Linked DNA regions of Homo sapiens. The protein of the gene in region 6 interacts with the protein of the main gene of each other region in a pairwise test. Each region holds a gene or a part of one and is shown on either strand. Other genes may lie near its edges. The genes, in order: TRIM37, TBC1D4, CLIP4, SPAG5, EXOC1, CDK5RAP2 and PTN.

Region 1 (3,500 bases), on a different chromosome or scaffold from region 6:
AAAATCCCAATAAAACTAATTCAACAGACTATTTAAAAAATTATACACTGTGGCCAAGTGGGATTTATTCCTAGAATAGAAAGATGATTCAACTACAAAAATCATTCAATGTAATAAACCACTTCATGGAAAACCCCCACTATGATCATCTCAATTGATGCAGAAAAGGCATCTGACAAAATCCAATATCCTTTCATGATAAAAATACTCAATAGAAATAGAAGGGAACTTCCTCAACTTGATAAAGGCCATATATAAAAACTCATAAAAATCATAGTCAACGATTCAAAGGCTAAAAACTCTTCCCCTTAAGATCAGGAAAAATTCCCCTTAAGATCAGGAAAAAGACAAGGATGCCAGCTTTTACCATTTCTATTTGACATAATACAGGTACTAAAAATTCCAGCCAGAGTACTTAGGCAAGATAAAGAAATAAAAAGTATCCTAATTAAAAAAGAAGTGAAATTATCTTTTTGCAGATGACATGATCTTATCTGTAAAAATCCCTAAAGAGTCCACAAAATATTGTTAAAGCTAATAAACACAACAGTTACAGGAGACAAACACACAAAAAACACTGGCATTTCTATAAGCTTGCAATGAACAATCTAAAAACGAAATTAAGAAAATAACACATTTGCAACAGCATCAAAAGGAATAAAATGCTTAGGGAAAAAAAAAACCAAGAATTTGAAAGACATACATGGAGGCTGAGTGTGGTGGCTCACACCTATAATCCCAGCATTGGGAGGCCAAGACAAGAGGGTCTCTTGAACCCAGGAAGTTGAGGCTGCAGTGAGCCATGATCGCATCACTGCACTCCAGCCTGGGTGACAGTGAGATCCTGTCTCAAAACAATAAAAAACAAAAAGAAAGACTTATACGTGCAAAACTACAATACACTGCTCAAAGAAGTTAAAGAAGTCCTAAATAAATGGAAAGACACCCATGTTCAAGGATCATAAGATTTAATATTGTTAAGACAGCAATATTACTCAAAGGCATGTACAGAATCAATGTAATCCCTACTAAAACTCCAATGGTACTTTTTATATTGGTAGAAAACTGCATTTAAAATTCACATGGAATCTCAAGGGATGCCAAATAGTCAAAACTATCTTGAAAAAGTTGGAGGACTCACACTTCCTAATTTCAAAACTTACTACAAAGCTACAGTAATCAAAACAGTGTGGTACTACCATAAGAACAGAAATAGAGACTAATAGAACAGAATAGAGAGGTAGAAATAAACAAAAATATTTTATGATTCCATTTATATGATGTACTTAGAATAGTCAATGTAAAGACAGAAGGTAGAATAGTGGTTAACAGGGGCTAGGGGGAAGAGAATAATGAGAATTTATTGTTTATCAAGTACAGAGTTTCAGTTTGGGATGATGAAAAAGTACTAAAGGTGGATAGTGGTGATGGCTGCACAACAATGTGAATGTACTTAATGCCGCTAAACAGTACACTTAAAAATACAGTTAAAATTGCAAATTTGGCTGGGCCAAGTGGCTCACATCTGTAATCCTAGCACTTGGGAGGCCAAGGCAGGCAGATCACTTGAGCCCAGGAGTTTGAGGCCAGCTTTGGCAACAAAGTAAAACCCTGTCTCTACAAAAAATAAAAAAATTAGCCAGGCACGATGGCACACACTTGTGGTCCCAGCTACTCAAGAGTGTGAAGCAGGCCAACTGCTTGAGCCCAAGAGATTGAGGCTGCAGTGAGCCATGATTGTGTCACTGTGCTCCAACGTGGGCAACAGAGTGAGACACTGTCTCATTTAAAAAAAAAAAAAAAAAAAGGCTAATTTTACATTAGGTATATTTTACCACAATTAAAAAAAAATTAACAGAATACCATATGACCCAGCAATTTCACTTCTAGATATATATTCAAAAGAAATGAAAGCAGGAACTCAAACAGATAATTGTTAACAACAGAACTATTAACAATATCCAATATCCAAAAAGTGAAAACAACCCAAGTGTCCATCAAGAGATAAAAATGGATAAATAGGCTAGGCGCGGTGGCTCAACGCCTGTAATCCCAGCACTTTGGGAGGCCAAGGAGGGTGGATCACCAGGTCAAGAGATCGACACCATCCTGGCCAACATGGTGAAACCCCATCTCTACTAAAAATACAAAAATTAGCTGGGTGTACTGGCGCACACCTGTAGTCCCAGCTACTCGGGAGGCTGAGGCAGCAGACTCGCTTGAACCTCGGAGGTGGAGGGTGTGGTGAGCCGAGATCGCACGATTGCACTCCAGCCTGGCGACAGAGCGAGGCTCTGTCTCAAAAAACAAAAAAACTTAAGAAAAAGGATAAACAAAAAGTGGTATATAGCCATGTGTCACATAAAGATGTTTCGGTAAATGATGGACCGCATATACTACAGTAGTCTCGTAAGATTAGAATGGAGCTGCCCTACATAGGTGTACCATTTTTTATCTTTTATACTGTATTTTTAATATACCTTTTCTATGTTTACTTATGTTTATTTTCTTTTTTCTTTTTTTTTAATGGGTACAGACTTTCTGTTTGGGGTGATGAAAGATTTTGGAAATAGTGATATGGTTGTATAACATTATGAATGTAATTAAAGACACCGAACTGTACCCTTAAATATGGGTAAAATGGAAAATTTTGTTATATTTATTTTAGCACAAAATGGGGGGCACTGAACAGACCCCTTACCAAAGACAACATATGGATGGTAAATAACTCCTGGAAAAGATGCTAACATCATTACTCAACAGAGAAACGCTAACTAAAACAAGGAGATACCTGTAAGAATGGCTACACGTCCCTGAGAATGGCTAAAATTCACAAAACCGAACACACCAACTGTTAGCATTAATGTGGAGGAATTGGAACTCTCATAAACTTCTGGTGAGAATGTAAAATTATAAAACTATTTCCTTTTTTTTCTTTTTGAGACAGAGTTTCGCTCTTGTTGCCCAGGCTGGAGTGCAATGGTGCGATCTCGGCTCACCACAACCTCCGCCTTCTGGATTCAAGTGATTCTCCTGCCTCAGGCTCCCAAGGAGCTGGGATTACAGACATGTACCACCAGGCCTGGCTAATTTTGTATTTTTGGTAGAGACAGAGTTCTCCATGTTGGTCAAGCTGGTCTCGAACTCCCGAATTCAGGTGATCCATCCACTTCGGCCTCCCAATCCTTTTTTTAATTTAACCTTCATCCCTCTCCTCCTCTCCCTCTTTTGAAGTCCCCAGTGTCTAGCATTTCCCCCTTTATGTCCATGTATGCTCATTGTTTAGCTCCCAGATACAAGTATTTTAGAAAATAGCTTGGCAATTTTCAAAATGTTAAACACACATCTACCACATAATCTCTATCCGTTCCATTACTAATTATTTACCCAAGAGAAAAGAAAGCTTCTTGTACACGAATGTTCGCAGCAATTTTCACTGTAATAGCAAAAACTGTAAACATGCCATATGCCCATCAACAGGTGAATGCATAAACAAATTG
Region 2 (4,154 bases), on a different chromosome or scaffold from region 6:
CCACTGCTCCCACTGGACTAAAAGGGGGAAGTGAGCCTAAACATATTAATATTTATATAGTTCAGCCTCTAACGCTTAAATATATAATGGAGGAAAATAAAGGAATGTTTATAATTGACTTCCTACCAATGAGACCAAGAGGAACTCAACAGCAGCTGTTGAGAACTAAAGGTGCCAGGACCATCAATGAGATTAGCAACAATGTGTCATGCATCAGATGTCGCTGGGGGGAAATAACTTTAACAGAAACCCCCGAGAGTCATGAAAAGTTCCTTAAAGTCCTGGAAAAATGCAACTGGCTCCTCTTTACCACCAGAACCAGAAAAATGTAATACAATAAAATGTAATAGCTTTCAGAAACTTTCCAATTTTAACATATGTGAAAGCTAAAAATAAGTTTTGAACAAATGTTCACAAAATGAAATTCATTAAATCGTGGTTAGGATCTTGAAATAATTTTAGTACGATATTTTGCCATAAACATAACAGTTATGCCATAAACATAACTTCACATTAGGAGTTCTGATTGTTGGGTGCCTGTAATGCCAGCTACTGGGGAGGCTGAGGCACGAGAATCACTTGAACCCGGAAGGTGGAGGTTGCAGTGAGCCGAGATCGCACCACTGCGCTCCAGCCTGGGCGACAGAGCAAGACTCCGTCTCAAAAAAAAAAAACCTATTTTTCAAAGTAACTGATGAAATCTAAGACAATGAACTATTATTTTCTTCAATTCAACTACAAGCCTTTTGTGAAAACTGTTGAACTAAGTCTTTCAATTACAGACAGAAGAATTGTGAAATAAAAAAAATTAAAGCCATATTTATAGGATGTTTTTCTCATCTGACTACGATTAATTTCCCAGTTACCAAAAGAAAGCCACATGGTGCAACCTGAGACTTTATTTATATTTAGACAACACTATTTTTCCAAAGAACCTAAAGTACTGTGCAAACAGTAAATAACCATTTTTAAAACAGCATTTTGGAAGCTTTTGATATGGCGGGGAGAAAACTCATTACAAATTAAAGGGGGAAAACTCTGTTTTCAAAGACACAATCACTGCATAGTCAAGTTCTCCTCTCCCTGTTCCATAAGGACCATATCTGTTTTTAAGGAAGTAAAGTTTACTGTTTGGTAATTAGATTTAGAAGACTCTGGAAAAAAAATATTAAAAACAAAAGTGAAAAAAACATTTAAAAAATGATATTAGAAACCTGTTCTACTACACTGCCTCCAATAAGTGTGTTTAAAAACCGCAAAAAAAGGGCTTCTTTCCATTCAATATCCAAATGTAGAATCCTTCTTTGCAGACAATCTGACGATGTCTAGTAACTTTTCCCTAAGCCCCGCTCGGAAATTGCCTCCCAGACCGGAGACCTGCAGGTGCTGCTGCGAAGATGACGCGACCAGCCAAACCGGTTAAGGATTTGACTGCGATTGAGAACTAGTGAGGACCTCTAGGAACCCAACCTTCTGCGTTCATACACGCGCTCGCGCGCACACGCACGCACACACACACACACACACACACACACACGGCAAGCAAGCCATCTCCGGTCACACCCCAGACACCGCCGTCCTCCCGGGACGGGCGCTCCTCCACGCGTGCTCCTTGGACGCGCCAGCTCCCCCTCCATCCCGGGACCGTTGTCCTTTTCCCTCCGGGTCCCTGCTGTAGCCGGCCGGCCGCTCCCGCCGCTCGCCCAGCCCCCGAACGCCTTCTCTCCCACTCCCAAGGTCCAGGGAAGGGGCCAGCCGGCGCTTGAGCGCGCCACGTGGAGCGCGCGCGCCTGCAGCCAAACCTCAGTCGGTCCTTAAAGTGGGGTCCCCGCCCCTCCCGCCCTGCTCCCCGATCCCCCAAGGCCGAGCCCGCCCCCGCGCCTCCGAGCCCCTGTCTTGCCTGGCTGGGGTCTGTGGCGCGGAAAACGTGGCAGGCCATCTGCGACTCGGGGTCGTCGGGCTGCGCCTTGATCAGGTAGGCAAAGTAGGTGAGGTCGTGGCTGTTGTGGATGAAGCGCGAGATATGCTGCGCCTTGTGCTCGAAGATGAATACCGCCGGGTTGGGCTGCGTGGCCGACGGACTAGTGCCCCCCGAGGCCCCAGCGCCCGGCGCGGGGACGCAACGCAGGAAGGGCGCGCTGAGCACCAGGATCACCTCTCGGGCCGCCGGCGCCCCGCAGCCGCCCGCCTCGGGCTTCTGGCTGCGCCTGCGGATCTCGGCCATGAGCCAGGGCAGCATAGGCAGCGTGGTCCTGTGGTCCAGGCACGACCCCCCAACGTACCACAGCCGGAACCGCTTATCGCTTGGCTTCCCGGGGCCGGGCTGAGCTGAGACGCCCGGCTCGGGCTCCAGGGGGTGCGGGAACGGCTCATCCTGAATGCAGCTGGGCGGCTCCATAACTCTCGCCTCACCAGGGCACCGCGGAGGCCGGCCGGGCGCACCGCGCCCCCCACTCCCGCGCAGAAGGCGCCGCCGAAACTGTGCCAACTGCCGCACCGGGCTCCCGCGCCTGCCTGGGAGCGGCGCGACCCCGAACTCCGCGCTTCAGCAGCCCTGCCCCATGCAGCACTTCCACGGGCGCGGCTCGGAGGCTCCGGCGGCGGGCACCGAGGCAAGCGCCCGGCAGGCGAGGGCGGGTTAAATGGGCATCCTCCTCCTTGGGCTGGCGCCTCGGGCAGGACCTCCCCTTCCTCCGTCGCGGGTTTGCAGGGTCAGAGGACCACGCCGAGGGTCCCCGCGGCCGCCGGCTCCAGCGCTGCAGCCCCGCTGCGGCCGCCGCGCTCGCCTGGGGCAGACACTGGGTGGCTGGGCGGGGAATGGGGCTGTGGGCGGGAGGGGGTGACTTGGGGCGGAGCTGACTCCTACCAGGGTGACCGGCTGTCACCTGGAAGGTCGGGGCTGCAGGGCTGCGGCGCGGTCAGTCCTCAGGAAAGGCTCCGGCAACTACTCCAGTGGAAAATAACAAAAACAAAACGTGGCCTCGCGGGGGCCGCTCCTCCTCCCGCCGCAGCTGCAGCCCAGCTCGCTGCTCCTCCTCCTGCCGTTCCCGTCCCTCCCTCGCTCCTTCCTTCCTTCCTTCCAGGCTGCTTCTTTAATCGGGCTGCTACTCCGCCTCCCGTCCGGCGGGCGGAGAGCGTCGCCTGCAAAAGCTTATCCGTGAAGCCGCCTCTCCGCCTCTTCGCCTCTTCCTTCGACCCCCGCCCTTGGGGCTGCAGCTCAGAGCCTGGCGCGGGCACTGCCCGGACCCACTTGGCCTCTCTTGAGTCGCCGCGATCTCCGTCTCCTCCCGGGCGTCTCTGCTGCCCCCTAGAGAGGGGGCCACTCGCAGTGGAGAACTGGGATTTTTTTTTAACAGTATTTGCTTGGTTTCAGTTCCTTCTAAAGCCTACACATTAATTTCTGAATTATCTTTCCTAATAATCTCAAAAAACGCTCGTGTTTTCAATCACAATATTATAAATTCCAGTTCCAAATTTCACTTTAAAACATAATATCGACAGCTTGAATCTTCCTAGTTATTAAAGCAGCCAACTTCTTAAAATATGGAAAAGTTATGTTTTATTTATGTTATATCCCCAGTTGAGAGCTAATGTAGAGATTTCTTGTTCTTTTATATATATGTGGTAATACATATTTCCAAAGAACTAAAAAAAAGTTTGGAATAATTTGATCATTGTAATTTTAAGACAGGTAGACAAGTATTCTCCCTTTTTACTCATACCGAATGATAATTAAGAATTGGGTAAGAAGTAAAGACAAAATAAATAAGAAAGACACAGAAGTTCCTGACTTTCTCCTAAGTGCTTACAAGAAGAATGAAAACTCGGGTTTCTTGGTTTTTAGTTTAATGAGTTCTCACTTTTTATAAAGCCCTGGGACCACTTTTTCCCTTCTATTTATTTAAGATCAATATAACCAACTGCCATTGTTCTTATGCTGAATTTCTGGTTGCACTCTGATGGCTCTCTTATTAATAGGTATCTAAGTTCCAAGATGGAGACATTACTAATTGATTAGGTTAAGTCATTTGGTTGAACCACTTAAAAAACCTTTGTTCAAAAAGACCCATGTCTTCAAAGAAGCAATGAAAAGTTCTTGGAAGGTAGACTGAGACCTTCTAGAACCTTCCCAGAAACTCTGTTACACAGATCCC
Region 3 (3,500 bases), on a different chromosome or scaffold from region 6:
CATTTCACATTCCAGGGAAGGGTCTCTTACCCTCTTTGCCTAAGTACATGGCTTTTTTAGCAAGTCAGTATATTTAACCAAAATAAATACATCAATAGCAGAAGAATGCTAGATATCTAAGCACCATTGCTTTCTAAAAATAAAGTCCTCTAAATCCATCATGATGCTTAAAATGAACATTTTAACATAATATAAATGCTGACAGCAGAAATAAAGCATTTAGCTTAAGAAGCAGAAAAAGCAATAAGCAATTGTATTTTTGAAAAAGGAAAACTTTAGCAATTTTATGAAAACCATAAAAATGGTTCTAAGAAAGACTATGAGTGCAAAAAAGGCGTAACAGAGAAGTCAAGTTACCAGTTCACAGAAAATAAGCACAGCTACTTCACATACCACAGTCTGAAGGCATTGGTGCTGCAGAAATGGAAAAGATAACTGGGGTATCAGAAGCAGAAAATATAAATGGGTATCTTCCAAACAAAGGATTTCCTTCTAATGGAAAATCTGGAAGGTCCTCTATGGTCATCTTCTAGAAAGCCACCTATAATAAGAAAGAAAAAAAAAGTGTTTCTACTTTATTTGTATGCAACTTAGAATGACTGCCTTCAATAACTGCCTAAAAGTTATTTGACGTCAAATCTGCTGACATTTTCAGTAAGGATCTTTTATGAAAGGGAAAAAATTCCTTTTGGCAAAACTGTTGTTAAAAGGCATACATTGCTTCACACCACCTCTTATACCAGTCGGTAGCACATGTAATCTCTCTAGACAAAGCTCAAAAGGAATATAAAATAGGTGAAAACACTTTAAATGCTGAGCTAATCTAAATGGGTGAAATCCTCCTACTCATGTAACAAACAAGGGCGTATTAACCCTTGTAGATGGATCTTTAACTTCCCATAACACTGGCACAAGTTACATCATTTGTCATCCAATAGCTCATGCCATGTGCTCATCACATGAAGATAATCTACCTTAAAATGTTTCCATTATTTTCTATCCCAGAAAACTTTACTGAAAATTAATCATATCCCTCTTACAAATCTAAGAGTTTACTAAGATTGTTCAACTTAACAAGGTCCGAGGTATGTGAGTTCTATCCTGGCCAAAGATGGAAGCCATGCCTTTTAAAGCACATGGCTTATATTACCTCTTTTTCCCAGAAAACATGAGTGCTTAGAATAAATTTGCTCTAAATTAGACTTTGTACTACACCCTAGCCTACATCTCAGAAATGATGTAGAAAGCAGAGAAACTGCTAGTAAAACCAAACTTATGAAGCTAAAAGCCTTCCAGTTTCTTTTGTATCCGATCTTTACTATCTGAAGTATCATGAATTCCTGTTTTTAAAATGTAAGCAAAACATTATAAAACTAAATGAAAAATGAGTTTAGATTATTTCAGTAGAAAGCACAGAATAAAAATAGGTAATCAATGGCTTGATCTGGTAGTAGACAACACCATACTAGCTACTACTTAATGTGTGCTCTGTTCTACTTAACCAACCCTATATCTAACTCAATTATCCTTACCATCAGTTCCCCACTACAATAAAACAGTCATTTCATTGAGCTCACTGTTGTCTTCCTAACTTGATTCATGTTTTCTTAATACTGGCAGGAACTGGTAAAAAGTAGGAGGCTTTCTTTTTCCTCAAAAATCGTATGCTTATATGGATATAGATGTTATATATTAGGTAACCTAATCCAGTTGTTACTATTTTAAGGTATTCACATTTTCTTGGATGCTAAAATTACTTACCACCAAATACTTAGAAGCATTTTGACATTAACCTTGCCACATAAATAGGAAAATGACAAGTTCATGGAATTAGTGTTATAGAGCAGCGGTGATCTTCCTCAAATACTATCAATTCCAAACAGTAATGAGTATTTATTAAGGAACCACTATATACAAGACACTATTCTAGATGTTTCAGCAAATACAAAAATGAGTTAACAGATGGTCCATGCTTCTTAGGTAGTTTACAATCTATTAAGGTGAATAAAATACCACTAATAACTATAGATTATGAGGCAGAATGGGATCTGCTCCATCACATAAGTACCAGGAACATTTGCAGTTGGAGCTTCTAAGAATCATAAATGGTGAAGAAGGTATCATCTGTGATGAGTCTTGAATGATGAATAGGTATCAATATAAAAGGGGATCCCATTAAAAGAACAGTAGGCTGGAACTTGGGATATGACTAGGAAAACAGTCAGAGGTGAGGCTGTAAGGGCTTTTTAGGGCTGTACTGAGGAGCAAATACCTCATCAAAGACCAAACCACTTACTTTCATGAGCACTGGGAAACTACTGATTTTTTTAAAGAGAGTAACATGATTAAAGCTGTTTTAGGAAAATTAATCTGACTATAATCACGGTTTGGGACTCAGACATGTTTTTATACTCTTAATTCTTCAGCAAAAAGATTCAGTGGATATCTGTCTGAGTCGGTTAAGAGGAGTCACCACATGACTTCCCTTTCAAAGGGTGGAGTCTCCCATTCAAAAAAAAAAATTTTAAGTGATCCCCAGAGCACCTTTCATTTCCTTGTAAACTGTTGAGATCCTCAAAGATACGAACTCTATCGTACACAACTAGCAGTCACCACAGGAGCTAGAATAGTGTGTTACACATATTTAACTAATATTCAAAGCTTAGATTCAAAGTGGAAAGAGGATTCATGCAATCAGATGTAACCAGCTTCATTCTTTTACATATTAGATACTTCAAGTCCAGAAGAAGCTACAATATTACCTGACCAATGCAGTGAACATTCTTTGTATTTTGTCTTTGTTGCGTTTTTCTCTAGTTACATTTCCTTATTTTCGTGAAAAACTTAACATTCTACCTTTTGTCCTCCCAAAGGAAACTATGTACCCCTATAAACTTCCTTATAGTCTCAGATTCATTTCCTAAAAGCAATTCCTGGATCTGAAGACCTACAACACCTGGACTCTTGGTCAAATGTCTAAGTATACTGATCTGAACTGAGTACACACTTTCATTCCAAATCCAACTATGGTTAACTGGTGATAACTGATTATAAAGTAAGCCTCAGGTTAAAAATATATATATATATATTGGCCCTGCCAGGCATGGTGGCTCACACCTGTAATCCCAGCACTTTCGGAGGCCATGGCAGGTGGATCACCCAAGGTCAGGCATTCGAGACCAGCCTGACCAACATGGCAAAACCCCATCTCTACTAAAAATACAAAAAATTCGCTGGGCATGGTGGAGGGCACCTGTAATCCCAGCTACTCAGGAGGCTGAGGCAGAAGAATCGCTTGAACCTGGGAGGCAGAGATTGCGGTAAGCCGAGATCCCGCCACTGCAGTCCAGCCTGGGCAAGAAGAGCGAAACTCCATCTCAAAAAAAAAAAAAAAAAATTGGCACTAATCAACTGTCTACAGAACAGGTGCCTCTGATACTAACAATAGCTAGAATCAAATTCCCCAAACTCTGATTTCTATAGGAATTTCACCCTACTCA
Region 4 (3,500 bases), on a different chromosome or scaffold from region 6:
AGGCGTTACTTTCAGAAGGTACTAAGTCCTCACGCACAGCCTCAGTTCTACTGCTCAGGCTTTCCTTGGAGCAATGTAGTTGTTCAGAACAGGGATTTGGTGGAGACTCCTCTAAGAGATGGGACGGAGATTCCTGAAAGATAGGTTTCTCAGATACAGCAGCAACTTCTGAAAACCTGTCTCCCATGCAGGGTGCCACCTCCTCTCTCACCAGATCGTCTGTTCTCAAAGGTCCATTTAAAGATATGCTGTTTGTCTCTGCCATGGTATCTAAACGGGCCTCAAATATCATGTCTTGTTGCTGCCCCAGTGGAGATGGTACAAGGACGATGGTTTTAACCATATAATTGCCCAGTGGGTCTACTGCTTCCTCAGACGTTTTAGGAGTAGAGCTAATTTGGGGAATTGGATCTAGAGGCTGCTCATCTGATTCATGCTGACAAGTTTCTAGCCACTTTGAGGAATGACTGAAATGTTCTGAAGATAAGTCTGTCCTCTTGTTATTTACAAAATCCACTGGAGATGAGTTGTTGCTGCCTTCCTGCCAAAGGAAACAAAAGTAGTTGTCTAAGGCAGTCAATTCAGTTCCCGACATACAATTACAGGTGCAAGATAGTGCACTCAAAAAAGAAAAGAATTCTTACTACCTCTGCTTAGGTAAGAACTTGGCTAATCTTTGTTGCTCATATAGAGACCCAATAGTAGGGAAAGAAAAGCTGCTAAGCCATTTTGGGTCCTTCCAAGTGAACCAGCCTACATTATAAACAGGCTGAGAATATAGATCCATATCGTGGGCAGATGGTAGCTTGAAAGTGACCCCACTCATCTCCATTCTGAACTCTAACGCACTTCTAGATGAACAGATAGGAGGGGTCCATAGGGTGTGAGTGAAGGCTTAAGCTCTGTCAGAATCTAGAGTTGGTACAAGTTCTTCTCCCTCTCGGCTGGGCGCAGTGGCTCACGCCTGTAATCTCAGCATTTGGGAGGCCACAAGCAGGTGGATCGCTTGAGTTCAAACCTCATCTCTACTAAAAATACAAACATTAGCCGGGCATGGTGGTGCTGATGTGTGCCTGTAGTCCCAGCTACTCAGGAAGCTGAGGTGGGAGGATCACTGAAGCTCAGGGGGCAGAGGTTGCAGTGAGCCAAAATCGTGCCACTGCACTCCAGCCTGGGTGACAGAGCAAAACCCTGTCTCAAAAAAAAATAAATAAATAAATAAAAAAGGTAGACCCTAACAAAACAGAGCTGCTGGAAGACACAGATGATAATCTGAACAACAACAAAAAAAACGAGTACTTAAGCTTTAACTACAACATAAATACACACACAAAGACATTTTAGAAATAATAAATATTATTTTAAATAAAAAATGTCAGTAAAATGAATTGAAAGAGTAAATTATTAGAGTTGAAACTAGAATTACTGGCCTGGACAAGTGGAAGAAATATCTTAAAGCAAAGATAAAAATATAAAGAAATGTAAATCTGAAGAAAAAGCTAAGAGAATTAGAAGATAAACCCAGGATACCTAACAGTTAAATAAAAGAAATTCCAGAAGAGAACATATATACATGAGGCGCTGATTAACAAATATTAGAAGAAAACTACCCTAATGAAAGACCTGAGTTTGCACATTAAAATGGCTCACCAGTTTCTAAGCAGGACTGACTAGAAAAGATACATGCTAGACACATAATTATAAAATTTCTGTGCTACAATGAAGAAAAAACTATTCTGGAAGCTTTAGATAGAAAGTCCAATTATTTATTAAAAAAATAATCAAACAGACCGGGCGCAGTGGCTCACGCCTGTAATCCCAGCACTTTGGGAGGCTGAGGCGGGCGGATCACGAGGTCAGGAGATCGAGACCATCCTGGCTAACACGATGAAACCCCGTCTCTACTAAAAATACAAAAAATTAGCTGGCTGTGGTGGCGGGCACCTGTAGTCCCAGCTATTTGGGAGGCTGAGGCAGGAGAATGGCGTGAACCCGGGAGGTGGAGCTTGCAGTGAGCCAAGATCGTGACACTGCACTCCAGCCTGGGCAACAGAGCGAGACTCCGTCTCAAAAAATAATAATAATAATAATCAAACATATGAAATTTCTCATTTATATTAGTGGATGAAACAAAACCAAGGTTAGGTTAAAAAGGGCTTCTGATATTCTGGTACTGTCCTACTTACTGACCTGGGTATTAGTTACATGGATGTGTACTTTATAGTAATTTGTTATGCTGTTATGTTTTATTGTAATTTCATGTATCTTACTTTAATTTTGAAATTATTAAAAGGTATGATGGCTCACACCTGTAGTCCCAGCTATTCAGGAGGCTGAGGTGGGAGGACTGCTAGAGCTCAGGAGTTCAAGGTTGCAATAAGCCAAGATCACACCACTGCACTCTAGCCTGGGTAACAGAGCAAGACCCTGTCTCAAAAAAAAAAATAAAAAAGACAGGGCATGGTGGCTTACACCTGTAATCCCAGCACTTTGGGAGGCTGAGGCGGTCAGATCACAAGGTCAGGAGTTCGAGTGCAGCTGGGCCAACATGGTGAAACCCCATCTCTACTCAAAATACAAAAATTAGCTGGGCATGGTGGCGGGTGCCTGTAGTCCCAGCTACTCGGGAGGCTGAGGCAGGAGAATCGCTTGAATCTGGGAAGCAGAGGTTGCAGTGAGCCAAGATCGCGGCACTGCACTCCAATCTGGGCGATACAACAAGACTCCTTCTCAAAAAAAAAAAAAAAAAGACAATATAAAGATGAGTGTGTGTGTGTGTGTGTGCATATATACAAAATAGACACACATAAAGAGATGTATGAAAGAACTGTCAAATATGACATTTATCTAAGATACCAGAAATATTTCTTCCTTATACATTTATATATTCAAATGCTTCAAACAATTAATATCTATTAATAATCAAAAATTTACAAAACAGGCCAGGTGCAGTGGCCCACGCCTGTAATCCCAGCACTTTGGGAGGCCAAGGAGGGTGGATCACTTGAGGTCAAGAGTTTGAGACCAGCCTGGCCAATGTGGTGAAACCCCGCCTCTACTAAAAATACAAAAAATTAGCCAGGCATGGTGGCACGCGCCTGTAATCCCAGCTACTGGGGAGGCTGAAGCAGGAGAATTGCTTGAACCCGGGAAGCAGAGGTTGCAGTGAGCCGAGATCACACCACTGCACTCTAGCCTGGATGAAGGAGTGAGATCCTGTCTCAAAAAAAAAAAATTAGGCCGGGCGCGGTGGCTCACGCCCGTAATCCCAGCACTTTGGGAGGCTGAGGCAGGCAGATCACGAGGTCAGGAGTTCAAGACCAGCCTGACCCCCAACATGGTGAAACCCTGTCTCTACTAAAAATACAAAAATTACCTGGGCGTAGTGATACATGCCTGTAATCCCAGCTACTCAGGAGGCTGAGGCAAGAGAATTGCATGAACCTGGGAGGCGGAGGTTGCAGTGACCCTAGATGGCACCACTGCACTCCAGCCTGGGT
Region 5 (3,500 bases), on a different chromosome or scaffold from region 6:
GACAGGGAATTTAAAAGTTTGGAAGAATAAAAATTTAACATTATCTCTGTACAACAAGATTAAAAATGATCTTTACTTTCTTCTTGATTTGAAAATTCTATTCGCTGATTTTTGGGGATAAATAGTTATTTATGTTTCAGGTCTTGTACTGGCTAGCACTTCAATAACAATGCTAAATAATAAAGGATCTAACAATACTTCTGCTTTAAATTCATTTCAGAGGGAATATCTCTACTGTTGCAGTTAAGTATCATGTAACCTTTAGGCCTGAGATAGATTTTTTATCCAATTAAAGGAATATCTGTCTGTTCTTAAGTTTTATAAGTTTTAGTTTATAAAGATTTATAAAGAACGAATAATGAATTCATTCATTCATTTATTATTTATTTTTAAGACAGGGTCTGGCTTTGTCATCCAGGCTAGAGTGCAGTAGCATGAACAAGGCTCACTGCAGCCTTGACCTCCTGAGCTCAAATGATTCTCCTGCCTCAGCCTCCTGTGTAGCTGAAACTCAGGGACACACCACCACGTCTGGCTAATTTTTTAAATTTTTTTTGTACAGACAAGGCCTCACTATGATGCCCAGGCTGGTCTTGAACTCCTGGGCTCAAGCGATCCCCCAACTGGTCCTTCCAAAGTGCTGCGATTACAGGTGTGGGCCACTGTGCCTAGCCACATTACTTTAGAATCAGATAAAGCAAAGCTACTTTGAATTTTAAAAGAAAAAATCAAGGCTGGACACGGTGGCTCATGCCTGTAATCCCAGCACTTTGGGAGGCCAAGGCGGGCAGATCACTTGAGGTCAAGAGTTTGAGACAAGTCTGGCCAACATGGTGAAACCCTGTCTCTATTAAAAATACAAAAATTAGCCAGGCGTGATGATGCCTGCCTATAATCCCAGCTACTTAGGAGGCTGAGGCAGCAGAATTGCTTGAACTCGGGAGGTGAAGGTTGCAGCGAGCCGAGATTATGCCACCGCACTCCAACCTGGGCAACAATTGGTGAGATGATTCCATTTTCTATCAATTTTTTAGCTTTTACAATTCCTGAATATATGCAATCAGATCATTTATTTCAGATGAAATGACATGTCCAGACTTTTCTGTAACTTAATTGTGGGATCTGACACAGGAAGAAAGCGAATTACAGTATTTCAGCACTAATTTCTCTTGTATTTTAGTACTAATTTCCTTGTATAGTAGATATGAAAAACTGAGTCCTAAATAAGTGAATTGATTTGCTTAAGGTTACACACACATCACAGCCCATCATCTCTAGAAGACCACTTGTTAAAATGCAAATGTAATCTGGAAGGTCATGTTTTTGTGTTTAAAAAATGATTTTCTACAAAAAATTAGCAGGGCATGGTAGGGTGCACCTGTAGTCCCAGCTACTTGGGAGGGTGAGGTAGGAGGATCTTTTGAGCCTGGGAGGTGGAGGTTGCAGTGAGCCAAGATCATGCCACCGCACTCCAGCCTGGGCGACAGAGTGAGGCCCATCTTAAAAAAAAAAAAAAAAGATTTTCAATTTTGCATAGTCATAAGCCCACATAAACCCTAAAATGTAAGTGGTTCATAATGAATACAAATAGGTTTTATTTTCCAAATTCAAGAAATCTTTAATGTTAGAAAACCTAAAAAAGATTATAAGATATACAAAATAATGAACCTATCTGCTCCCGATTTCTTAGTTACCAGAAATAAAAACAATAGCTATAACAATTCTTTAGAACATAACAAAAGCTTACCATTAACAAATACTCCTCTGATAAGTTTGGTGTATGCTTTATCCAGGTCTCCACGACGCTCAGCATTTTTGAAGATTGATTCTGCAAGTCCAGCAAATTCTTCAAATTCAGCAACAAATGGAAGAATTCCAACTTTACTCTTTTTTGAGATCTTTACTTCTTCCATTTGCCTTATTTGGTTACTCTAAAGTTAGGCAGAGAGCAAGGGAGATAAATAACCAAGCAACTTTAAAACTACATATAATCATAACAAAATATATAGATGGAGATATAGATATATACATAGATATCATAGAGGCAGGATATTATGTGGTACCTAGAACACTTTGGATGCTTACTAATTGAAGATGAATCAAAACAAGGATAACTAAGAAAAACTAATTCTATAGATAATAAAACCATTTTACAGTAAGTTTAAGAAAATCAAAATAATACAGATTATTTAAAACCATCTATAAGCTGGGGACGGTGGCTCATGCCTGTAATCCCAGCACTTTGGGAGGCCAAGGTGGGTGGATCGCTTGAGGCCAAGAGTTCAAGACCAGCCTGGCCATTTTCGTCTCTACAAAAAATACAAAAAAAAATTAGCTGGGTGGGGTCGTGCATGCCTGTAATCCCAGCTACTTGGGAGGCTGAGGAATGAGAATTGCTTGAACCTGGGAGGCAGAGGTTGCAGTGAGCCAAGATTGCGCCACTGCACTCCAGCCTGGGTGACAGAGCAAGACTGTCTCAAAAAATAAAATGAAACAAAACAAAATACAATCAAGGCCGTGAACTTCAAGTCTCTGTACAAAGTAAAAACAGTCAACACACATTTCTACCATTTATGAAAGATGAGTACAAGGCAATTACTGATTTTAGGTTACAGGAGAGAAGATTCCAGAGCACCTATAGGATCCCTCCGGGTAACTTCTGGTTGGTGGCCACGTGGTCAAGTTTGAGAACCACAGTCATTTCCAATTTTCGTCAGTCTAAAATTTCTGTCTGGATAGACAAACTCTCTATTTTCAGAGTACAGAAACAAAGAGGGAGGATAGGCATTTCCATATGGATTTGCATTATTTAATTTTCCATATATTTATTAGTCACTTAGCCTTAGTTCCACAAACTGCTTGTGCATTATATGACAAAATGCGAAAGAAATGTTTCATGCAGACAGAATCTTAGGTTCAAAACGATCCACGGATTCAATTATGGTTCTATGATTCTGAAGGGATCTAAATCTACTCAGTAGGAATGATTACACTGCCAAATACTTTTGTATTATTTCAGCTTCTACCTAACATTTCATTGTGTTGAGATTTGGGGAGTATAACTCAAAAACCATATGACACATGGATTAGAAAAATAATTATCTCTAGGCTTCTGACATTAGTATAAGAAAACCCTAAGAGTATAGTCAGTTATTTCATATTATCTGTACTAATGTTCTACTTCATCAGTATTGGTAACTGTGAGGTGAAAAACAGATGCAGTAGAAAAGGTAGTGGTAAGATTGCAGGTACTAGAACCAGACTTTCTGGGTTTGAATACAAGATCCATATTTTTTAACTGTGGACCTGGGGAAAGTAACTTCACCTCTCAAACAATCTACCTTATTGAGGGGCTGGGTTTAAGATTAGATGACATAATGTGTGCAAAGTGCCCAGACTTGTGCCTGGTACACAGTAAGCACTCATTTATAAATGCTGTCTATTGATCTTATTGACCAGTGTTCATAAATGAGAGATAAGATCTTATCAAAAATAAGACA
Region 6 (3,500 bases):
TGCTGGGATTATAGGCATGAGCCACCATGCTGGCTCCTAGCTTGCCATTTGCACTCAATACTGTTTTTATTTTTTGCTGAGACACCAGAGTGCCTCAACTCCAGGTGCTACCTCAAACAGTTGCCCAGGAGACCCTAGGGCCTCTCTCTTCTTGGGAAAAATGGGCACGAATTGATAGAATTCATTTTCTCACTCAGCTTTTTGAGAGCCTGGACTTAAACCATTTCAGACAAGCTGCAGTATATTTATGCTTTTTATGTCCTGTTATGGCAGCTCGATAGATTAATTTTATCTTATAAATTGCATTTTGCCTCCCCAGTGTTTTTATTTTCCCTGTTGTATCTTTGTGTTCTTCTCAGTTGCTTGGCTAAGTTTCAGGTCTTACGGTTTTATTTATTTTTCTTTCTCTTTGTGATTGCCTGTAGCTCAGCCCCCTGTGGGAGCAGCCTACCAGGACAGCCCAGGAGAGCAGAAAGGAATTAAAACCACATCTTCTGTCTGGAGAGACAAGGAAATGGACAGTGATCAGCAAAGAAGCTACGAGATTGGTCAGAATTCAGCCCCTGTGTGTATTGAACAGCTTCCATGTGCCAGGCACCATTTGGATGTTTTATCTAAAAATTATTACTAAGCCCATAGCAGCCCTCTCAGGGCATTATTATCATTCCAGTCTAACACATGGGAAGCTGAGGTTTTAAGAAATAATTGACCCAGGGTCACCCAGCTGGTAAGTAGGAGAAGAGTCAAGGTACAGTAGGATGTCAGAACCCACCCGTCCATGTGTCAGCATGCTTCTCTACCAGGCAGTGGGCTGGGTTCTGGTGGTTCAACATGAAAAGACACAGCCTGCTCTTAGGGACCCCACAGCTCGGAGGAGACAATCATCCCAACAGCCTGTTAGTATTCAGCGCGGGGCTGCCTGTTGCTGAGGTGTGCTTGGTGTTGGTCCGTGTGCCCAGGAGGAGTGGGTCAGAAGAGAGCCTGAGGCTGAGACTGGGTTTGTGGGGTTTGCCAGGCAGATCAGTGGAAAAGGTGCAGAGATACGGGTGAGGGCAGAGGCAAGTTGTATTCCTTTCTTTTTAAAATTATGAAGTATTAGAAGCATACATAAGCACAAAAGATAATATAACAAATACTCATGTTCTCATTCAACCAGAATGAACAAATGCCTACATTCTTTTTATGTTAGATATTTTTCCCCCTTCATTAAAAAAAATCACTATTAATCCAGATCTAATTCACTCTGTTAGAAATAATTGTCCTCAAGAATCCTAAATTTGTCATGGGATGGCCATGGGGACACCAGTCTCTGGAAAAATACTGAGTTGTGGTATATACACTGTTGTATACTTTTGCAAGGTCCAGAGTCACTGCAGTGAACACATGGTCACATGCTTCTGCGTGTTCTGGGCTTTGAGGAGAAAGCTACTCTACCAGGCAATAAAGTCCCCCTTAGCTGAATTGTGGAAAGTTGTAGAACTATAGTATTTCTTATAATGCAAATATTCATAAATGGTCTTGGGGACATCTTTTGATTTCTTCTTGATAGTTATTAATACAGACTTCTTAACTAATCGACAGCTTCCCTTTCCCTGTCAGTACTTCCCTTCATTACTGAATGTCTTTCATTTTTCTGAATGTGCTTCCAGAACTTTGTATGTGAATTGCATCTGCCTGAACTTCCACCTTTTAATTGTTGCGCAGCTGAGGCTGGGTGCTGCGTGTGACATCTTCATTGCTGTTTCTTTTTCACAAGGCCCTTGACAGATACTTGGGATGTGAATAAAGGATTTTACAGGCATCTTGGCCTTCACATTGAGGGTTAAGAACTCTCTCTCTCTTTGCTCATGCACCGCGGTACAGGAGATTGGATTGCAGGAGTGTTACTTCGGGAAGCATCATTCAGAGTGTTAGAGGCAGACTGCCAGGCTTTGAGGAGGGGCTCTACTGCTTACCTACCCTGAACCCTAAGCAAATTCTTAAGCTCCCTAAGCCTCAACTTCCTCTTCTGTAAAATGGGGGTACTAGTGATGCCTCATAATTACTTAAGGAAAGTCCTGGGAACTAATCTTTATTTCCATGAGTGAACACGCTTCTTGCCATGAAGTACAGACCAAATTCTATTATCATGAGGTTATTACAGCAAAGATATTTTCTTGTCTTGGAGGGTGATTCACTGGAAAAAAAGCCTTATGGAGAGATATCTCCCTCCCCAGTTCCTCTTTCTCTTTCTTGTTCAGCCAGAAATACTTGGTGAGTACATTCTCTGTCGCAGACCCTGTGCTAGATACTGGAGAAACAGACATGGATGACACGGTCTGCACCCTCAAGGCTCTTATTGAGTAATTATCATAACATTGTGTATAATAAAAATACTGTATTAGGAATGCTTCCTTTAGGTCAGGTAGCAGCTGCTTTCTGAAATGAAATGCCATACTTTATGGTATTTGCATCATGAACAGATACAAGAGTGTACCTCAAGTCACAAGGAGCAGATTGCAGAACCAGAAATTGGGACATGCAGTCTGATGAGGATTTGTGTGTGAATTTCTTTCTGAGAGATCTCCTAGGTCACCCAGTCCAACCCACGTTGTTGCTTTTGTAGCATTTTTCCAGGCTGGCCTTCGCACGCACGCCTCCGGTGAAGGGCATCTCCTTCTATCTTGGAATGGTTAGAGGATGTTTGTGTTACTTGGATTCCTTCACTACTATGTGCCAGACACTGTGCTAGCCTTTTTTTTCTTTTTGCAGATTTTGTTCCATATAATCCCTAAAAACAAACACACACACACAACTTTTCAGTGATGTTCTTTCCATTTTACAGATAAAGCTACTAAAGCTCAGAGAGGTCAAGTAACTTGCCTATGTGACAGAGCCAGAGTTTGAAACCATGTCTGTTGAATTTCAAAGACAGGTTTTTCTACTACATTCCGCTGCCCCTTAAGTATTCAGACAGCTCTCTATATTGAACGGAACTTTCCCTGGGCAGCCAGCAGTGTGGCACAGTGGTTAAGAACAGAAGCTGCACTACAACCATATGAGACATCTCTTTCTACATTTTAGACACAGGGGAAACTGAGGCTCTTGGATAGTAAAGTCACTTGCCTCAGGCTGTGTGGCCTTCAAACTTCATATTCTTTCTGCTGTACTACTCCACTTCTGAAACAAGTTTGACTGCATCTCTAAGGGTTTAGCTATTACTAGCTATAAGGAAATATTTCCTGGCAGTGTTGTGAGTGAGTGAAACACCTCACTAAAGGGGATGTCAGGGCATCTCCTGGAAGCCATTAGACATGGAAATGAGAAGACTGTCACGTGTTGTGGATATTCAGAATTACCACTCTTTACTGTTGCTTCACAGAATCTCTCAATATTTCTCACACTGGCACTGACTTCTGGTCTGGGTTAGGTTCTGTACTAGACGCCGAGAATGTGAAAATGAAAGGCCACATCTCTGCTGTGAAGAAACGTGCAGTCTGGTGAGGGAGAGCTACATTCAG
Region 7 (3,500 bases), on a different chromosome or scaffold from region 6:
TCACATGTTGACAATGGCTCATTCTCTGTTTATATCCATTTCTGCTTTGCAGCCTCAATCCAGGCAGGGACAAGGGACATGTGGCCCGGGGTGTTATTTGATGTGTGGTGTATGTGTACTTCCTTCTCTTGATTTGGCTCTGTTCAATGTGAACTAAAGTGCCCTACTGTTCACATCAGGGTAGGAATCCTATTGGCTCTCAGAACCTTCTAGAGTAGCCGCTATATGACTTCAATAAAAAAGCACTTGGCTTTAACTAATTATAGCCCTGCTCCAGGCTAATTTGTGACCCACATCTCATAGTAAACATTTCTCTCTAACCTTGAAAGGCGACTAAACTGGGACAGTTTTACCCACAGAGTTTAATCAGGTCTCTATTCTAAAGACAAAGTTTTAAGAAACCTGGATAAATTTCATATACGTATGTTTGTAAGTTTTCTTCTTCATAAAATATTTGTCTTTAAAGATAGACTGAAATTTGACAAGATTCTAATTGGATTTACACTCCTTACTTTCCTTGAGAAATACTCTTTTCTATATAGTAATGGGTTGAACTATTTCCCATTCAAGTATTCATTTATCCACTCCGCATGCAACAAGTATTTCATGAATGCTTGTTATATCTCAGGCACAGAATATACAGTTGCAACATACAGATAGGGTCTCTATTGTCATAGGAAAGGAAAAACACATACCAAATAATTAGAGACAAAATTAATAGTTCAATTCTAGTTTTGGAAAAATCAATGGGAGGCACAATGAGAGTGTCTGTGCACGGAATCTGCTTATCTGAGAGCTCTTGGAGGGCTTCCCTGAGAAAATGCAGTTGAGGCTAAGATTTTAAGGATGACTAGGTGCTGACTGTGCAAATTGGGGTAGTAGGAGAAGGAACACTCAGGCCAAGAGGAAATAATATGAAAAGGATAAGATGGAAAGAAGCAAAGAAAAGTCAAAGAACCGTCATAAGGAAGATGGGTGAGACATATTATCACCATGTTATGGATCCATTTATTTTCACTAAAGCTTTACTAATCAGCTTTTACACACAAGGCCCTGTGCCATGGGTTGGAGGTACAACAGAGAGTAGAAACTGCACCCTCTCGCAGCTTGTATTTTGGTGGCAGTTACAATGCTAGAGATAGGTGCTCTAACAAGAGCAGGAAAGAGAAACAACTTCTAACTCACACTGCGAGGTCAGCAAACTAGAAGTGATGTCAATGCTGGTACCTGAAGGATGGGAGGCATTAATGAGACATGTCGTAGTGGAAGTGTGGGGTTGATGAAATGAAGAGTGAATTTGAAGGCCAGAGACTAGAGAGAAAAACAGACAAAGAGAAAAGATGTATTTGGGGAACTAAAATAAGCATAAGTATGAAGATGGAAGTAAAGAGGGGCAATGTGAATGTTTCAGTTTCTTCATCTATTACGTAAGGGCGTTGGACCACGTTCTTTCTAGGTCATAGATTTTGTGATACTATTTTAAACCCATCATGTATACTAGGTAAAGATTGAGAGGTTGTTAATAAGTTTTTGAGGCCACAGAGATAAGCAGTGACAAAGCTCATTTAGTCTTTCAGTTGAATGTACATAAAAGTCACAAAAAACTGCTTTCGATTGGAAGCAATATTACTGACCTGATTTTTTTTCACAAAAATTTGAACACTTTGTTATGTAAAAAACTAAACTGACCTTATTGCAAATATGAATTCTTCCCTCCTTCCACTACTTTTTACTGAAGACTCTTTATTTTTCTCTTTAGATTGAGCCCAGAGTAGACTCAAGTTCTGCAGGGTGTCCGGACAGTACCATGATTACTTGCCACTTGTGTCAGAAGAATAAGTTGATTGACATTGTACAGATTTAATAAGCAAATTGTTGATTTCCTGGTATTTAGCAAGTTGTCAATTAAGGAATAAGACACCAATGTCAGGTTCAGGGTTACCTAAGAATGTGCTCTTGCCTTTACCAAGAAGAATTTGGTGACAGATTCCTATTCCCAAAGTGTTCTTTGAAATGGACAACCTTACATTAACAGATCAAATAGTGTCCAATGTTCAGAATAATTTTAAGTTTTATGAAACTTTTATACAAAAACCTGGTTAGTATGTCATCTGCTCAGACTTATGTATGAAATAGGAACATGTTAGCCAAAATATGAAAATTGCTACTTAGATATCCACTCTACTGGAGACCTAGAAGATAACAAGTTCCTGAGGGTTTTCCAGGAAGGGACATGAGGAAACTGAGAGAGGGAAAACCAGAGTTAGGTCTCAGTTGAAATCCTACATTGTTCTCTGAAGATACCATCCTAATATACAGCTGTTGCCTAAAATGTTGACCAAAAATTGGGAATTATTACATTTTCAGACACTGAATAATTTTTCGGAAATTACACATAATGTCTCCTTTGATCTAAAATGTATCTTTCACTTGGAAATTCTGGTCATTACACCTCTCATAGGGTGAAAGAAAGATATTTGAGAAAACAAACAAAAATAGAGAGCGTGAAAAGTTAAATTTCTTTAGTATAGAAATGGGGCAAACTTGGGAAGTCATGAATGGAATGAATACAATTATGGACAACAATTTAGCCTGGGTTTAGAAACTGCTGACCCACTTGCATATAGTGTACCCTTGAAGTTTGAGTAAAGGAAGATTAGGACAATTACATTGAACAGAAATACTACTAGTGTGTAATGGACTTTGGAACCTACTTGAAGAGGTCATGAAGATAGTATATAGAAATGGAAAAGTTTCCAGCTCTACTTAAGTATGAGCTGAGAAATATACAATATTTCTAGTTGGCATCATATCATATCTTCTGTCTTCATAAGTCTTATGGTCCTCTTGGACACAGGCTGTATGCTCCAGTGAACAATGACCTCATCCCTGTTGGTCATTGTTTTTGTCCCAGTGACCCTATGTTGCTTAGCACATTCATTGACCTGCTCAATCAATATGCCTTGATAATGATTAAGGATTTTAATTATACAGGGTAATGATCTCTTGTTCTTGCTCTATTATCACCCTAATGATAAATGCTAACCTTAATTGAGCACATGCTATTGTATCATGTTCTGTTCTCAGTAGATTTTATAGAACAGGTTTAATTTGGATATAAACCGTATGCTTACTATCATATGCTATGGTACTTTTCATATGCCTATTTAAAGATGAGTAATCTAAGAAACAAATACATTAAGTAACTTTCTCAGTGTCTCACAGTAACTTAATGATGTGGCCAGGATTTAAACTTCAGCAGTCTGACTCCAGAGCCTGTACTTAACCAGTATATTTCTGCCACTACTATGGACCAAATTGGAGAAGTGGCTCAGAAATATTTAGCAATATCCCCTCACTTGCTAACCCAGTGATTCTGACCATTTTTGTCTTTGGAGCCAAATTAGATGTGTTCTATTCTACATTGCATTCTCCTGTTAGGAAAAGAGAAGTGGAAAGATGGTTGAATGGAAAAGAATGGAGTCTTTTGATTGAAATCC

The links.
Region 1: the proteins of CDK5RAP2 (region 6) and TRIM37 interact in a two-hybrid assay, tested with the Homo sapiens proteins (one large-scale study listed by BioGRID and IntAct).
Region 2: the proteins of CDK5RAP2 (region 6) and TBC1D4 interact in a two-hybrid assay, tested with the Homo sapiens proteins (one large-scale study listed by IntAct).
Region 3: the proteins of CDK5RAP2 (region 6) and CLIP4 interact in a two-hybrid assay, tested with the Homo sapiens proteins (one large-scale study listed by BioGRID and IntAct).
Region 4: the proteins of CDK5RAP2 (region 6) and SPAG5 interact in binary tests that used the Homo sapiens proteins (3 or more experiments, as listed by UniProt).
Region 5: the proteins of CDK5RAP2 (region 6) and EXOC1 interact in a two-hybrid assay, tested with the Homo sapiens proteins (one large-scale study listed by IntAct).
Region 7: the proteins of CDK5RAP2 (region 6) and PTN interact in a two-hybrid assay, tested with the Homo sapiens proteins (one large-scale study listed by BioGRID and IntAct).

The regions. Positions count from the first base shown.
Region 1 is NC_000017.11:59,096,881-59,100,380, forward strand, and holds part of TRIM37 (E3 ubiquitin-protein ligase TRIM37), read right to left. Parts: intron 1-3,500. UniProt on the Homo sapiens protein: E3 ubiquitin-protein ligase required to prevent centriole reduplication. Probably acts by ubiquitinating positive regulators of centriole reduplication.
Region 2 is NC_000013.11:75,479,370-75,483,523, forward strand, and holds the start of TBC1D4 (TBC1 domain family member 4), read right to left. Parts: upstream 2,801-4,154; 5' UTR 2,399-2,800; coding exon 1,901-2,398; intron 1-1,900.
Region 3 is NC_000002.12:29,118,415-29,121,914, reverse strand, and holds part of CLIP4 (CAP-Gly domain-containing linker protein 4), read right to left. Parts: intron 542-3,500; 5' UTR 527-541; coding exon 394-526; intron 1-393.
Region 4 is NC_000017.11:28,592,526-28,596,025, forward strand, and holds part of SPAG5 (sperm-associated antigen 5), read right to left. Parts: intron 542-3,500; coding exon 1-541. UniProt on the Homo sapiens protein: Essential component of the mitotic spindle required for normal chromosome segregation and progression into anaphase. Required for chromosome alignment, normal timing of sister chromatid segregation, and maintenance of spindle pole architecture.
Region 5 is NC_000004.12:55,895,148-55,898,647, reverse strand, and holds part of EXOC1 (exocyst complex component 1), read right to left. Parts: intron 1,932-3,500; coding exon 1,748-1,931; intron 1-1,747.
Region 6 is NC_000009.12:120,440,668-120,444,167, reverse strand, and holds part of CDK5RAP2 (CDK5 regulatory subunit-associated protein 2), read left to right. Parts: intron 1-425; coding exon 426-548; intron 549-3,500. UniProt on the Homo sapiens protein: Potential regulator of CDK5 activity via its interaction with CDK5R1. Negative regulator of centriole disengagement (licensing) which maintains centriole engagement and cohesion. Involved in regulation of mitotic spindle orientation.
Region 7 is NC_000007.14:137,228,734-137,232,233, reverse strand, and holds part of PTN (pleiotrophin isoform 1 precursor), read left to right. Parts: intron 1-3,500.